2 separate regions of the Homo sapiens genome follow, and region 1 is linked to region 2. The links come from fine-mapping of genetic effects on gene expression. Tissue or cell type: anterior cingulate cortex. Region 2 holds a variant in brackets; the other region holds the start of a gene. All regions are shown on one strand. Distances are from middle to middle.

The links. PIP is the estimated chance that this variant, and not a neighbour inherited with it, causes the effect.
Region 1: POLR1B starts here. The variant in region 2 is fine-mapped to the expression of POLR1B in anterior cingulate cortex (GTEx, PIP 0.92).

What each region holds. Positions count from the first base shown.
Region 1 is chr2:112,538,526-112,546,708 of GRCh38, forward strand. POLR1B (RNA polymerase I subunit B) reads left to right here and starts at 3,940. Exons shown (of 15, transcript NM_019014.6): 1 at 3,940-4,146. The coding sequence starts at 3,970. TTL (tubulin tyrosine ligase) reads left to right here. Exons shown (of 7, transcript NM_153712.5): 7 at 1-3,214. LOC105373562 (a long non-coding RNA gene) reads right to left here and starts at 3,687. Exons shown (of 2, transcript NR_136321.1): 1 at 3,678-3,687; 2 at 3,131-3,553. RefSeq lists an enhancer at 3,823-3,972.
Region 2 is chr2:112,567,022-112,575,204 of GRCh38, forward strand. It overlaps POLR1B (RNA polymerase I subunit B), which reads left to right. Exons shown (of 15, transcript NM_019014.6): 11 at 946-1,116; 12 at 1,725-1,881; 13 at 5,541-5,737; 14 at 6,541-6,794; 15 at 7,826-8,183. Among named protein-coding and RNA genes, the nearest start is that of CHCHD5, 13 kb to the right of the region's middle. The variant T/C (reference allele first, on the strand shown) is at 4,924.

The DNA.
Region 1 (8,183 bases), 28 kb before region 2:
CAGCACTTTTAGGAGGCCAAGGTGGGCAGATCAAATGAGGCCAGGAGTTTGAGTCCAGCCTGGGCAACATGATTAAATCTGGTCTCTATAAAAAATACAAGAATTAGCCAGGCATGGTGGTGCATGCCTGTAATCCCAGCTACTCTGATGGCTGAGGCACAAGAATCGCTTGAACCTGAGAAGAGGAGGTTGCAGTGAGCAGAGATCGCACAACTGCTCTCTGTCCTAGGTGACAGAGCAAGTCCTGTCTCAAAAAAATTAAAAAGTGGGAGCTAAACATTGGGTACACATGGACATAAAGTTGGGAAGAGGCCAGTCGCGGTGGCTCACGCCTGTCATCCCAGCACTTTGGGAGGCCAAGGCGGGCGGATCATGAGGTCCGGAGATCAAGACCATCCTGGCTAATATGGTGAAACCCCGTCTCCACTAAAAATACAAAAAATTAGCCGGGCGTGGTAGCAGGCGCCTGTAATCCCAGCTACTCAGGAGGCTGAAGCAGGGGAATCACTTGAACCTGGAAGGCGGAGGTTGCAGTGAGCCGAGATTGCGCCACTGCACTCCAGCCTGGGTGACAGAGACTCTGTCTAAAAAAAAAAAAAAAAAAAAAAAAGATGGGAACAGCAGACACTGGGGACTACTAGAGCCAGGAGAGAAGGAGGGGAGCAAAGATTGAAAACTACCTATTGGATACTGTGCTCGCTACCTGGGTGACAGGTTCAACCATACCCCAGACCTCAGCATCACCCAATATACCTTTGTAACAAATTCGCACATGTACCCCCCTGATTCTAAAATAAACGTTGAGAAGGGGAAAAGAAAGAATGCAAGGTTTTTTTAACATACAAAATTTACTTAATATAATATACCACTTTAATAGAAAAAAGAGGACAAAAAGCACATGATCATTTCAATATACACTGAAAAAGCATTTGGCAATACACAACACTCTTTCTTGGAAAAAACCTTTCAACAAACTAGAAATAAATTACTTCCTCAACATGATAAAGAGCATCTTTGGAAAAACCCACAGCCTACATCATATTAATGGTGATGTGAAAGCTCCAGTTGGGAGCTTTCTTCCCAATATCAGGCACAAAACAAGTATATTTATTCTTGTCACTTCAACATTGTATTAAATGTTCTAGACAGAGCAATTCGACAAAAGGAAGGAAAGAAGACTGCGCATTCAGATTGGAAAGGGAGAAGTATGATGATCTCTCTTTGCAGACGACAAGATACCATATAGAAAAAGTCCTAAGAAATCCACTTACGCTGTTAGAACTAATAAAGAGTTTAGCAAGATTGCCAGACACAAGATCAATATACAAAACTCAATGGTATTTCTACATATTACAAACAATTTGAAGTTAAGAAAACAATTCCATTTATATCAACACCAAAAAGAATGAAATACTTAGGAATAAATTTAACAAAAGTTCATTTCTACACCAAATACTACAAAACATCTCTGAAAGAAATTAAAGAACACCTAAATAAATGGAAAGACATCCCATGTTTATGGATTGGGAGATAATTATTGTTAGGATGAAAATAGGCCCCAAATTGATCTACCAATTGAACACAATCCTGATCAAGAATCTCAGCCTTCTTTGCAGAAATTGACAAGCTGGGCCGGGTGTGGTGGCTCACACCTGTAATCCCAGCACTTTGGGCGGCCAAGGCAGATGGATTACTTGAGGTCAGGAATTCAAGACCAGCTTGGCCAACATGGTAAAACCCTGTCTCTATTAAAAATACAAAATTAGCCAGGCATGGTGGTGCATGCCTGTAATCTCAGCTATTTGGGAGGCTGAGGCAGGAGGTAGAGGTTGCAGTGAGCCAAGATCATGCCACTGCACTCCATCCTCAGCAACAAGAGCAAAACTCTGTCTCAAAAAAACAAAAAACAAAAAAAAAAAAAAAAGAGAAAGAAATTGACAAGCTAAGCTGACGCTAAAATCCATATTGAAATACAAAGGATCAAATAAATCTGGAGAAAGAAGAACAAAGTTGGAGGATGTGCACTTCCTGATTTCAAAATTTATTACAAAGCTGTATTAATCAAATCTGTGTAGTTTGTAGACAGATATACAGATAAATGTAGATAGACATACAGATCAAGAGAATAGAACTGAGAGTCAAAAATAAACCCTTGCATCTATAGTGAACTGATTTTCGACAAGGAGGCCAAGACAATTTGATGAGGGAAAGAATAGTCTTTTTAACAAATGGTGTTAGGACAACTGGATATCCACATGCAAAGGAATAAAGTGATATGCCTTTCTCACACCATATACAAAAATTAGCTCAGAATGAGTCAAAGACTTAAATGTAAGAGTTGAAACTACAAAACTCTTAGTAGAAAATATAGGTGAAAATCCCCATGATTGAAAAATATCTAGTATTTGATAGCACAACAGGGTGACTGCAGTCAGCAATAATTTGTTGTACCTTCAAAAATAACTGAGGAAGTACAATTGGAATGTTCATGACAGAAATGATGAATGCTTGAGGTGATGGAAACCCCATCTACCCTCCTGTGATGATTACATCGTATGCCTATATGAAAACATCTCATATACCTCATAAATATGCTAATTATGTACCCATAAATTTTTTTTTAAATCCTCATGACCTTGGATTACACAATGATGTCTTAGATATGATATAAAAAGACAGGCAACAAAAGAAAAAAACTACACTTCAAAATTAAAACGTTTTGCTTCAAAGGACACCAGCAAGAAAGTAAAAACCCACAGAATGGGAGAAAAATATTTGCAAATCATGGATCTGACAAGGACTAGTATAGGCTATATAAAGAACTACAACTACTCAGTTGGCCGGGCGCGCGCGGTGGCTCATGCCTGTAATCCCAGCATTTAGGGAGGCAAGGCGAGAGGATCACTAGAGGCCGGAAGTTCAAGACCAGCCTGTGCAACAGACTCCCGGCTCGAATTTTTTATAAAAAGTGATATAGGAATGAAAAGTACCAGCTGAACTAGGAAAGGGGAAGTTGACAGTAAGGAGGGACTATCAGGGGCAGGAGGATACTGGGTAGTGGTGGTTTAATTCATTGTTTTAATTGTGGTGATGGCTGCATGGTTGTATACATAGGTCAAAACTTAACGCGTACACTTTAAATGTGTGGTTTATTGTATGCCAGTTATAACGCAATATAGCTGTTAAACACAAACACAATAAAGTTGAAAAACCAGCAGGCATTCCCTGATTAATCAGTATTCTGGGGAGGTAAGGGGCTCACAGGAACGCAAAAGAAATTCAGGCTGTAAATCCAGTTGGACGCCCCGCTGCCCCATCCCCTCCATCCGGGACCGCCCGACTCCTCTCCCACCTCCTTCCCCAGGCCTCCCCCAGGCCTCCAGTCCGGAAGATGCGACGAGGTTAGCGGGGCCCGACCACTCCTTGGCTTCCCAGGGGTGAGCCTCGCGAGTTAGGAGTTGGGTAGAGAGTCAGCCCGGGGCCCGGCATCCGCTTTTTCGTTGAAGCAACGACTTTGGCCGGATGACTCCCCAGGGTCGGCATCAGCGTGGGACTGGGAACAGGTGAAGGGAAACAGAAGAGAGCCTGAGAAGACCGCTCTCCTCCGATCCTAATTGACTGAGCCAATGAGAGCCAAAGAGGTCACATGCTCAACTGGGCGGGGAGCGGGTTTCCACCTGCGGCATCTTTCGCGAGCGGGGAGATGAGTGGGGCGGAATATGGGAGAAAGGGAGGGCCCGCCACGCTCTGGCTGGACACGGCCTTAATCGGCCCGTTCACTCGACGTTTTTGGTTCTACGTTGACCCCGAGAAACCGAAACCGCAGGGCCTAGGGCGGGTGGAACGAGAGGGAACTACATTTCCCAGCAGGCTGCGGAAACGGGACTGCGGCCACTACTTCCGGCGTGTACCGAGAGACTGGCGTCCGGCGTGTACCGAGAGACTGGCGTCCGGTGTGCAGGTGGCCACATGGATCCTGGCAGCCGGTGGCGGAACCTGCCCAGCGGGCCTAGCCTAAAGCACTTGACTGACCCCTCTTATGGAATCCCGCGGGAACAGCAAAAGGCAGCGTTGCAGGAGCTGACGCGGGCGCACGTGGAGTCCTTCAACTACGCTGTGCACGAGGGTCTCGGCCTCGCGGTGCAGGTGAGCGCGGCGTCCGCCGGCGCCCTTGCCGCGGCGAGGCCAATCCCAGGGAGGTGGCTGGGAGGTCACAGTATGACCCCAGATGCATGTGCTCCTTGATCCTGACAGGCTTGGTGGGTAAGCGGGAGAGCACAACATGTTAAACAGGACGCGGTACTGGCCTTCGTGAGACTTGGAGTCGAGGCGTCTTAAGAGATGTATTCGTGATTCTGGAGTGAAAAGTGATTGTGAACCGTAGTTTGGACAGTTTCGGGGTGCTGTGAGAGTGAGGAAGTGGCTTATCTGGGGATGTGCTTCACAATGCACACGGCTTTATATCACTTGAAGACTTACCTCTCCAAAACGTACCTCGAAAGATCCCGAACGTATTTGTAGGTACAGTGTAATGTTCAAGGTTATCCTTCAGTTTCCTTCTCTTAGAGCTTTAAAGAGAGAAACTACTCGTCATTTGTTATGAATTAAGCAGGTGCCGAGGAAGGTATAAATGAGTCATGAAAGCAAGATTGAATCGAAAAGTGTAATTGCATTATTAGCGTAGAGTAATGGTAGCAGAATTCAAGTGAGTATGGTGGGGGAAAGCTTCGTTTAGTAAGCATCCCCAGTGTCTCCAGGCACTAGGCTCAGAGGATGTGGAGGAGGCAGTCCCGTGTACGAGACAGTTCATGCATTTAAGTGCTCCCTGTCGTGTTTGGGGGTTGAAGGGGTGAAGATAATGAAAGCAGTGCATGCCAATGTTCTTGAGAACTGCTCTGCCAAGGGATTGTGTGGGCTACTGCGGGAGCCTATGGGCGGCGCAACTAATCCAGGAGTTTGAGAAAGGGCAGGATTAGATGAGTTCAAGAAGTGAGAAACGTGCATTTCGTCCAGGGGAAGAGTAGAGCAGAGTCACATGCTTCGGGGACCCTACCTGTGGTTTTGTTGGGTAAGATTTGTGTTGTGGGAGATAGGGATACAGATAATGTGGAGAGCTTTGATTGCCAGTCTGATTCTTGAACTCTATTCGGCAAATAATATGGGAGCCATTAAGATTTATTGTTTAGAAAGACTAGAGGGGTGGGGGTTATTTGTATTGTGCCTGGATTGTTACAGTATCATGTCTGTGAGAAAAAATTCCTAATTAAAAGTTAATCGGGCTGGGTGCAGTGGCTCACACCTGTAATCCAGGACTTTGGGAGGCCAAGGCAGAAGGATGACTTGAGCCCAGGATTTCAAGACCAGCTTGGATAACATAGTGAAACCCCATCTCCACAAAAATTTAAAAATTAGTGGGGCATGGTGGTGCGCACCCAAGTAGCTGGTCCCAGCTACTCGGGAGGCTGAGGTGGGAGGATAAGTTGAACCCAGGAATTTGAGGCTGCAATGAGCTATGATTGTGCCGCTGCACTCCATCCTCGGTAACAGAGTGAGACCTGTCTTTAAAAAAAAAAAATCCAATTGAGAAATTTTAGAAAAGCACTAATTTAAAAATAAGCCAGTCGGCTGGGTGTGGTGGCTCTTGACTGTAATCCCTGCACTTTGGGAGGTCAAGGCGGGTGGATCACTTGAGGTCAGGAGTTCCAGACCAGCCTGGCCAACCTGGTGAAACCCCATCTCTACTAAAAAATACAAAAATTAGCCGGGCATGGTGGCACATGTCTGTAATCCCAGCTACTCAGGAGGCTGAGGCACGAGAATCGCTTGAACCTGGGAGGCGGAGGTTGCAGTGAGCCAAGATTGCACCACTGCATTCCAGCCTGGGTGACAGAGTGAGACTCTCCCAAAAAAATAAATACATAAATAAATAAACCAATTATATGTTAACATTTTTAAGAAAAATATTTTCCAAAGCAAAAAAGAAGTTAGATGAATTGCATTATTAAAAATCTTTTTAATGTCTGGCTTAATGAAAAGACAGCTGGATTCTCATGTCTGCTTGTGCATTCAGTCCCTTGTGATAATTGTTTTGGTTGAAGTAGATGAAGAAAATTTGGCCCTGCATAGAAAATGATGCCACAACTTAGCTAGGACTATAATAATATAGTATTTGAAAAAGTTCTGTAAAACACAGTAACATAAATAACTAATACTTATAAAGCCAAGGGAAAAAATAGTTATCATATTTTTTACTTACAAAACATAATTTTGCCAAGTTTCTTTGGAGTGAATTCCTCCTTTCTGTGAGTCAGAATTTATGTGTCTGTCTTTTCAAAATACAATTGATTTTTATTACTTGGGGATTCCATATTTGCAAATTCACCTACTCACTAAAATTTACTTCTACTCCAAAAGCACCATGCCCAGAAGCAGCAAAAAAGTTGAGTTGCTCAGTGTCCATTTTCCCAGCTGAGATCTAACAAGGTGATGCTCGGCCTTCTTGTTTTAAGTTCTTAAACTATAAACAGAGGTTGTCTTCACTATCTATTTAGTGCCGTGTTTTGTGCTTTTTGTTGGTGATTTTGCTGTTTAAAATGTCCCCCAAGCAAAGTATTAAAGTATTAAAGTTCTGTATAAAGTTCCTAAGCACAAGAAGGCTGTGCTGTGCCTTTAGGGGAAAATATTAATACATGCATTTAACATAGGCTTTGTTCAGGCATGCGTTAGGGACTCAATAATATATATTAGATAAGCTGTCCTTAAACAGAAACCCACATAATGCAAGGTTGTGTATTGATCAGTGGATGAAATCATAGGCTTTGTTCAGGCATGAGTTACGGACTCAATAATATGTATTAAATAAGCTGTCCTTAAACAGAAACACACATAATACAAGATTGTGTGTTGATCAGTTGATGAAATGTGACCAGAGGCTCGCAGGAAGCTAACCATGTATTTACCCTAGGAGCAGTGGTTCAGTATTGGCTAATTCAGTGTTTATGGCAACTGTATAGAACATAACTATTATGAATAATGACAGTTCACTGTATTTCCTTCTAAATAGTGCAGCTGCGTCTTGAGAAAGCAAATTGTCTAATCTCTCTTTTTTTAACTTCATTCTGTTTTTTTTTTTGAGACAGGATCTCACTTTGTCACCTAGGCTGGAATGCAGTGGCATGGTTATAGCTCACTGCAGCCTCGACCTTCCAGGATCAAGTGATCCTCCCACGTCAACCTCTTGAGTAGCTGGGACCACAGGCGTGCACCACTATGCCCGGCTAATTTTTTTATTTTTATTTTTTGTAGAGACGGGGTCTCCCTATGTGGCCCAGCCTGGTCTCAAACTCCTGAGCTCAAGTAGTCCTCCTCTCTCGGTCTCCCAAATATTGGGATTACAGGTATAAGCCACTGCATCTGGCTTTTATTTTTAAATAAAATATGAATTTCTAAAATAATACCAGCTTTAGATAACATTTTAAAATTTAGAAAAGGTAAGTTAACTCACGTGAAGGTGGAGAACCTCCTTGGTATTCTTTCTTGGTTCCATTTTTTCATTTTCATTATTCTAAGACTAAGTCTAGGAGGTTGCTTGTAATTAATATATAGGAGAGCTTGGTGATGCCCCTTCCTCAGAACAGCAAAGCTTCCCCTACAGAATGGTACAAAGAAGTAACTTCTGTGGAAGGGGAAACCCAGCCTGGCCACCATCTTTTCCTTTGCATGGCTCTGGCTTCAGTTTGACGTTGCCATTGTACATTAAGCATCTAGTCTTAAATCCTAAAGGATGTTTCCGTATCCTTGCTCTATTAGCAGTAGTCCCATTTGTCTTGCTATGCACATAGACAAGTTAAGAATACACAAGGCTCTTGGTTCAGAGAACAGGAATTTTGTTCTGTTCACAGCTGTATCCCTAGAGCCTACTACAGTCTCTGACACATGTGGTCACTCAAAACAATCTTGTACTAATAATGCTTTGTGGTTTTAAGTATTTAGTGAAGTTATGAGTAGACTGGAGGTAGCTTTTTTTTTTTTTTTTTTTTTTTTTTTTTTTTTTTGAGACGGAGTCTCGCTCTGTCGCCCAGGCTGGAGTGCAGTGGCGTGATCTCTGCTCACTGCAGGCTCTGCCTCCCGGGTTCACGCCATTCTCCTGCCTCAGCCTCCCGAGTAGCTGGGACTACAGGCGC
Region 2 (8,183 bases):
TTTTCATTCTCTTTTTTTTGGTTAGCATTGTGGAGCATCGGAGGATGAGGACACTTAAGATCTGCTCTCTTAGTAAATTTCAAGCATGCAATATAGTATTCTTAACTATAGTCACATGCTGTACATGAGATCTCCAGAAACTTAATTTTGTTGCATAACTGAAGCTTTATACTCTTTGACCAACATCTCCCCGTGTCCCCCTCCACCAAACATTCTCTCATTTTTAATGATAATGCATCTAGCTGTGAATCCCCATGAGTTCTGACACATGGGTTTGTTGTTGTTGTTGTTGTTGTTGTTGTTTTCAGGTTTCTGTAATTTAGGTTTTTATTTCTCCTTTCACCCAGGAGTTTGTTGGAGTTTTTTTGTTTTGTTTTTGAGACAGGGTCACTCTGTCACCCAGGCTGGAGTGCAGTGGCATGATCATGGCTCACTGCAGCCTCAACCTCCTGGGCTCAAGTGATCCTCCCACCTCAGCCTCCCGATTAGCTGGGACTACAGGCACGTACCACCACACTCAGGTAATTTTTTAATTTTTGTAGAGACGGGGTTTCATCATGTTGCCCAGGCTGGTCTTGAACCTCTGGGCTCAAGTGATCCACCCACTTTGGCCTCCTAAAGTGCTGGGATTACAGGTATAAGCCACCCCCGGCCCACCCATGAGTTTTTGGTTTATTAAATTTACAAATAAAACCAGTAATCTACTGTATTTTAGATCACAGAGGACAGAATTTCCTTTAGTGTATCGACACGTGCATTCATGGTGTGCTTTATCCTTAGCCTCAGTAGTTAGTGATTTGCCTACTAGCTGGGGTGAGCACCCAAGGAAGTAGGGCTTTTACCATGGCTGAGTGTGGATGAGTGGTATTCCATGGGGCATAAGACTGGCAGCGACAGCCATGGCCTTGGGACAGGTTTGTTAAACTCTGTTTTTGTTAAAAACAGGTGTTGAGAGAGAAAAGAATTCCTCCCTGGATGGAAGTGGTCCTTATACCCATGACAGGAAAACCAAGTCTGTACCCAGGATTGTTCCTTTTTACCACTCCTTGTAGACTGGTACGGCCTGTGCAGAACTTAGCATTGGGCAAAGAAGAGCTAATTGGAACTATGGAACAGGTAAATACATATGTGTGATGGATGAGTGTATGTGCTTGTTTGTATAGTATACAACTTTCAGAGACTTAACTCTTCCTTTTTTAAAAGGGTTGTTAATGTTACAACAACAGTTGGACATTTGAAAGAAAGTCAGACTTTCCACCTCCTCTATGATCAGCACAGAGCAATTTCCATGTCTGATCTCACTCCACAGAACCTGAGAGAGGGCTGGTGGTCACATTACCTGCCTCCCATCTTATCTAGCTCCCAGAACTCCTTTGTACCTGGCTCTGCCTCAGCCGTGAAGTGAAAACATTCCATTAGATTCACACTCAGTCTTTGCCTACATATTTACAGTTGCAAAATTATAGGCTTTGTGCTACTTAAAAATTTTTCTTCCTATTCCCCTTCACAATTGGTCTGGGGTAGTTTTAGAGTGAGATACGTAAAGCAAGTGGTATTTCTAACTGGTCGCTTCCCTGTGCTTCCCAGTTGATCCCTTCAGCACTCATGATGCTGGGTGGGGATGGTTTTCTCTTGAGTCTTTGAGTACTGAACTCTGAGAAATGGTAAGAGTAAATGTGTAACCAGTTGCAGTTATTTTGTGCCTTGGACATCTGCTCTTCCAGATCTTCATGAATGTCGCTATCTTTGAGGATGAAGTTTTTGCTGGAGTTACCACACACCAGGAACTCTTTCCACACAGCCTGCTGAGTGTGATTGCCAACTTCATCCCTTTCTCTGATCACAACCAGAGTCCACGGAACATGTACCAATGCCAGATGGGTAAGGAAGAGGGATGATGTTACAGTCACAATCAGGAAAGTAAACTTGATACTAGCACACTCTTTTATTGTCCTTATTTACATATGCTGACCATTTGTTCCAAAAATACAGTTTATGGCAAGTTTTTCTTTTTTCTGTGCCACAAGCAACCAGCCCAGGATCACTCATTGTATTTAGTTGGCATGTCTATTTAGTTTCCTGTAATTTATGACAGATCTTTAAACATTCTTTGTCTTTGACATTGACATTTTTGAAGAAAAAGGTATAGAATGTCCATAGATTTGGGTGTGCCTGAGGTCTTATTATTTGATTTTTTGAAGAATACAAGCAATTATAGTCACCCGCATATTTATCACTTCCAGTCCTCTTCATTCCTGCTGCAAGATTCAAGTTTTCATTGTATACAATTTTCCTTCAGCCTGATAATCTTCCTTTAGCATTTTTTTATAGTGCAGGTTGCTGGCCACAAATTCTCTTTGTTTTCATTTATCTGAAAATGTCTTTATTTTGCTTCACTTGAAGGAATCTTTCACTGGATATACAATTCTGAGTTGACAGTTATTTTTCTTCCAACACTTAAAAGTTGTTGTTACACTGTCTCTTCTTAGTCTCTGTCATTTCTAGTTAGAAGGCAGCAGTCTTCTGAATATAGTGTGTTTCTTTTTTTTTTTTTTTGAGACAGAGTCTCGCTCTGTCGCCTAGGCTGGAGTGCAGTGGTGTGATCTCGGCTTACTGCAACCTCTGTCTCCTGGGTTCAAGTGATTCTCCTGCTTCAGCCTTCCAAGTAGCTGGGTCTACAGGGACTCACCACCACACCCAGCTAATTTTTGTATTTTTAGTAGAGACGGGGTTTCACCATGTTGGCAAGGCTGGTCTCGAACTCCTGACCTCAGGTGACCTGCCCACTTTGGCCTCCCAAAGTGCTGTATTACAGGCGTGAGCCACTGCGCCCGGCCTCAAATTTTGTTTTTTTTCAGTTTAATTAAATTGCTAAACTCTTCTGTCATTATTTTTAAAAACATTGCTCCTATCCTTTTCTCTCTTTCCTCCTCTTCTATCAGTTATTCATATATTTAAACCTTTTGATATTGTTCCATAAGACATTGAGTTTCTGTTCTCTTTTTTCTTTATTTTCTTCAGATTGGATCTTTTTTTTTTTTTCCCGAGATGGAGTCTCACTTTGTTGCCCAGACTGGAGTGCAGTGGTACAATCTCGGCTCACTGCAACCTCTGCCTCCCATGTTCAATAAATTCTCCTGCCTCAGCCTCCTGAGGAGCTGGGATTACAGGCACACACCACCATGCCCAGCTAATTTTTGTGTTTTAGTAGAGATACGGTTTCACCATGTTGGCCTGGCTGGTCTCAAACTCCTGACCTGAAGTGATCTGCCTGCCTCAGCCTCCCAAAATGCTGGGGTTACAGGTGTGAGCCACTGCACCTGGCCCAGATTGGATTATTTTTATTGACCTATTATCACAGTCACTTTTTATTCTGTCTTCTACTGAATTTTTGCTTACAGTCATGTGCCCTTAACGACAGGGATACCTTCGAAGAAGTGAGTCATATGTGATTTTGTCGTAGTGTGAACATCATAGAGTGAACTTACACAAACCTAGATGGCAGAGACTACTACACACCTAGTATATGGTATAGCCTGTTGCTCCTAGGCTACAAACCTGGGTGGCATGTAACTGTACTGTGTACTGTCTACAGTTGTAAGACAATGGCAAGGATTTGTGTAGCTAAACATAGAAAAGGTACAGTAAAAATATGGGATCACCATAGTATATATGCCATCCTGCATTGACTAAAACATTGTTATGCAGTGCATGCCTGTATTTTTCAAGTCCAGCACTTCTACTTGTTTCTTTTTTTTTTCTTTTTTTTTTTTTTGAGACAGGGTATCGCTCTGTCACCCAGGCTGGAGTGCAGTGGCACGATCTTGGCTCACTGCAACCTCTGCCTCCCCAGTTCAAGCAATTTTCCTGCCTCTACCTCCTGAGTAGCTGAGATTACAGGCATGTGCCACCATGCCCAGCTAATTTTTTGTATTTTTAGTAGAGGCAGGGTTTTATCATGTTGGCCAGGCTGGTCTCAAACTCCTGACCTCAAATGATCTGCCTGCCTCAGCCTCCCAAAGTGCTGGGATTACAGGCATGAGCCATTGCGCCTGGCCTGACTTGTTTCTTTTTTTATAGTTTCTTTCTTCTCTAAGATTTCTTATCTTCATTCATTGTGGGCATGTTTTCCTTTATATTTTGAACATAGTTTTATATGATGGGTGTTGTAAAATCATTATCTGCAGATTCCAATGTCTGGGTCATCTTAGTATCAGTCTCTTTGAGTATAAGTCAAGTTTCACCATTTCTTTGTATGCCCAGTAATATCGGATTGTATTATGAACATTGCGAGGAGTATGTTTTAAACCCTGGATCCTGTTAGGGTCCTCTGAAGAGGATTGGTTTTGTTTGTTTTTAGTGTGGTGTTTGGCCTTCAATTACATTTTAATTTTTTTCATTTTATGTCTTTCCTTCTTAATACACAGTCCATCACCTGGTTCAGTGCATGTCACCAAAAATTCTCCAGGGGAAGAGGATTGGTTTTTAGTTTTCACTGGTACTTAACTTGGTGAACGTGGCAGTTGAAGTACATTCTTCAGCCTTAGGTGGGCTGCTGTGATCTGTCCCATGCATGCATAGTTCAGGAGTCCACCAAAGATTCGGACCCAATTTATATGCTGAATTTAAGGGTCTCCCTTTGTGGTTCTCTCATTTCTGAAATGTTCCCCCTTCCCAATTGTTGTCATGCTCAGAACTCTATTTCTTGGTTCTTCAAGCCAGTAAGATTGTGGGTTTCTATCTAAGTTGTAGCTGCCACACTGGGCCATAAGGCAAAAATAAATACATAAATACTTAAAAACCTGGAAATTCACCCAGTGTGTTCCTTTTGTCCAAGTAAAAATTCTTCTCAGCTTCTGACAGCTTTTGGTTACTCTCCAGTGCTGTATGTGTAGTTGGGGGTCTGCGTCTCATACTTATGTG[T/C]TGAGGGTGGTCTAGTAAGAGTAGCCCTTTATTACTGGAAGCTCTAAGTCTATAATTTTTTTAAAAATTTCACTTGTATGTATTTATATTTTAAAATCATTTTGTCGTGAAATGATTCTCTGTACTGTGAGGTAGTACACAGAGGAATCTCACCCCATGCTCCACTACTTAGAATTAAATACATATTCCGCTGTAAGAAAGTAATCTAATTACGTAATAATTCCTATCCCCTTTTCTTCCCCGAGTAGTGATAGCCTGTAATTTGCGTACTTCCTTTCTGTCCCCTTCTAAAGCTTTTATTACATCATACATGTATCCATAAACTAAGTATAGAATTGTTTGGGGTGTGTTGCAAATACACATAAATCGTATCATATTAAATGTCAGTCTGCACTTTCTCCCACTCAGCATGGTTTTCCTGGTCTGGTCACGTTGATACATTTAGGTTTACTTCATTTTCACAGCTTATGTATTAGTCTAAAGTAAGCATAACTACCATGACTATTTATTTGTTCATTTTCCTCTGATGGATATTTAGTTGTTTCCAGTGTTGCGTATCACACCTATAATCAAGATGAAAGCAGCAGAAAATGCTAAGATGTTTTTTCTCCATGTAGGTAAGCAAACTATGGGCTTTCCACTTCTCACTTATCAAGACCGATCGGATAACAAACTGTATCGTCTTCAGACTCCTCAGAGTCCCTTGGTGAGACCCTCCATGTATGATTATTATGACATGGATAACTATCCAATTGGGACCAATGCCATCGTTGCTGTGATTTCTTACACTGGCTATGATATGGAAGATGCCATGGTAAGTTTTACCAGGAAATGTTGTTCCAATCTTTTTATTTTTTAACTTGTTTGTTTACTGTGAAATCACTGAAGGAATATTTTTGTGTACCCAAGTACCTAGTATTTGGCACGTGATGTTCTATTAAATGATTAGTTCTTAGTCTAAGTTGAAAGTGGGCAAGCCTTGAGGAATATCCACTAAATATTCAGATACACGTATGTCTTGCATATTTGAGTGCATATTATGAGTAAATTTTGAAGTTTGGTTTTGGATCTATCTACCTTTTATATTTAAGTATGATTAGATTTTAAGCTATTTCTGTGTGCCTGGGTTTTTGTTTTTCTTGTTTTTTGTTTGTTTGTTTTTTGTTTTTTATTTTTGAGACGGAGTCTCGCTCTGTTGCCCAGGCTGGAGTGCAGTGGCACGATCTTGGCTCACTGCAACCTCCACCTTCTGGGTTCAAGCAGTTCTCCTGCCTCAGCCTCTCGAATAGCTGGGACTACAGGCACCCATCACCATGCCTGGCTAATTTTCGTGTTTTTAGTAGAGATGGGGTTTCACCATGTTGGCCAGGCTGGTCTCGAACTCCTGACCTCAAGTGATCCACCTGCCTTGGCCTCCCAAAGTGCTGGAATTACAGGCGTGAGCCACCGTGCCCAGCCATGTCTGGGTTTTTGTAGTTAGTATCAGTGATTTGGAAAATGTGAGGAAAGTTAAAATGTGATGCCAGTTATCCTAAACCAAGTATGATAGTCCCACCTAGTTTTATTTTGAAAATCCTCAATTGGCCTCAGTCTTTTAACGATTCTTTTACTTCACAGATTGTGAATAAGGCCTCTTGGGAACGAGGCTTTGCCCATGGAAGTGTCTACAAGTCTGAGTTCATAGACCTCTCTGAAAAAATTAAACAAGGAGATAGTAGCCTGGTGTTTGGCATCAAACCTGGTGACCCACGCGTTCTGCAGAAGTTAGATGACGATGGATTGCCGTTTATAGGAGCAAAACTGCAGTACGGAGATCCGTATTACAGCTACCTCAACCTCAACACCGGGGAAAGTTTTGTGATGTACTATAAGTAAGTTTGGGTATCCAAGCTGTTTTGTTTTTGTTTTTGTTTTTGTTTTGAGACAGGGTCTCAGTGTGTCAGCCGGGCTGGAGTGCAGTGGAGTGATCTCAGCTCACTACAACCACCACCTCCCGGGCTCAAGCAATCCTCTCGCCTCAGCCTTTGAGTAGCTGGGACTCCAGGCATGGACCACCATGCCCAGCTAATTTTTTGTATTTTTAGTATAGACGGTTTCACCATGTTGCCCAGGTAGGTCTCGAACTCCTGGGCTCAAGTGATCCACCTGCTTCAGCCTCCCAAAGTGCTAGGATTACAGGCCTGAGCCACCATCCCTGGCCTATTTGTGCTTTTTTTAAAAACTGTATTATCCAAACTTTGTCATCTTTCTCACATACAATGTTAGCAATGTTTCCTAGCCAAAATGTTGAGCTCATACCTCTTATTAGAAATGTCTTATTTTAGCTTATTTTACAATATAATTTATTTCAATAGGCTTTCATAATAATTTTTCAGTTGCTTTTGTTGCTAGTTTTCTTTCAGATGAACATAATTCTGTAGTGAATATCACCAATAGCTCTATTCATACCATCTCTGTTTGTATTGGAGAATAAAGGTAAGAATGAGTTTTGCAGGCCAGGCACAGTAGTTCACACCTGCAATCCCAACACTTTGGGAGACCAAAACAGGAGGATTCCTTAAGCACAGGAGTTCATGATCAGTCTGGGCAATGTAGTGGGGCCCTATCTCTACAAAAAAAATTTAAAGACTAGCCAGGCCTAGTGGCATATACCTGTAGTCCCAGCTACTCAGGAGGCTGAGGTGGGAGGATTGCTTGAACCCGGAAAGTCAAGGCTGCAGTGAGCTGTAATTGCACCACCGCACTCCAGCCTGGGCAACAGAGTGAGACCCTGTATCATAAAAAAAAAAAAAAAAAAAAAAGTTTTACAAATATCCTTTATGAAGCACTAATTATATCAATGAAACTTATCTCCATAAGTTAAAACAAATAGGTTGACCTTATATGGTTTACTTTTTCCTAGGAGTAAAGAAAATTGTGTTGTGGATAACATCAAAGTGTGCAGTAATGACACTGGGAGTGGAAAATTCAAGTGTGTTTGCATCACTATGAGAGTGCCTCGGAACCCAACTATCGGAGATAAATTTGCCAGTCGCCATGGGCAGAAGGGCATTTTAAGCAGATTGTGGCCGGCTGAGGACATGCCTTTTACTGAGAGTGGGATGGTCCCAGACATTCTGTTCAATCCCCATGGTTTTCCATCCCGCATGACCATTGGGATGTTAATTGAGAGTATGGCCGGGAAGTCTGCAGCTTTGCATGGTCTCTGCCATGATGCTACACCCTTCATCTTCTCAGAGGAGAACTCGGCCTTAGAATAC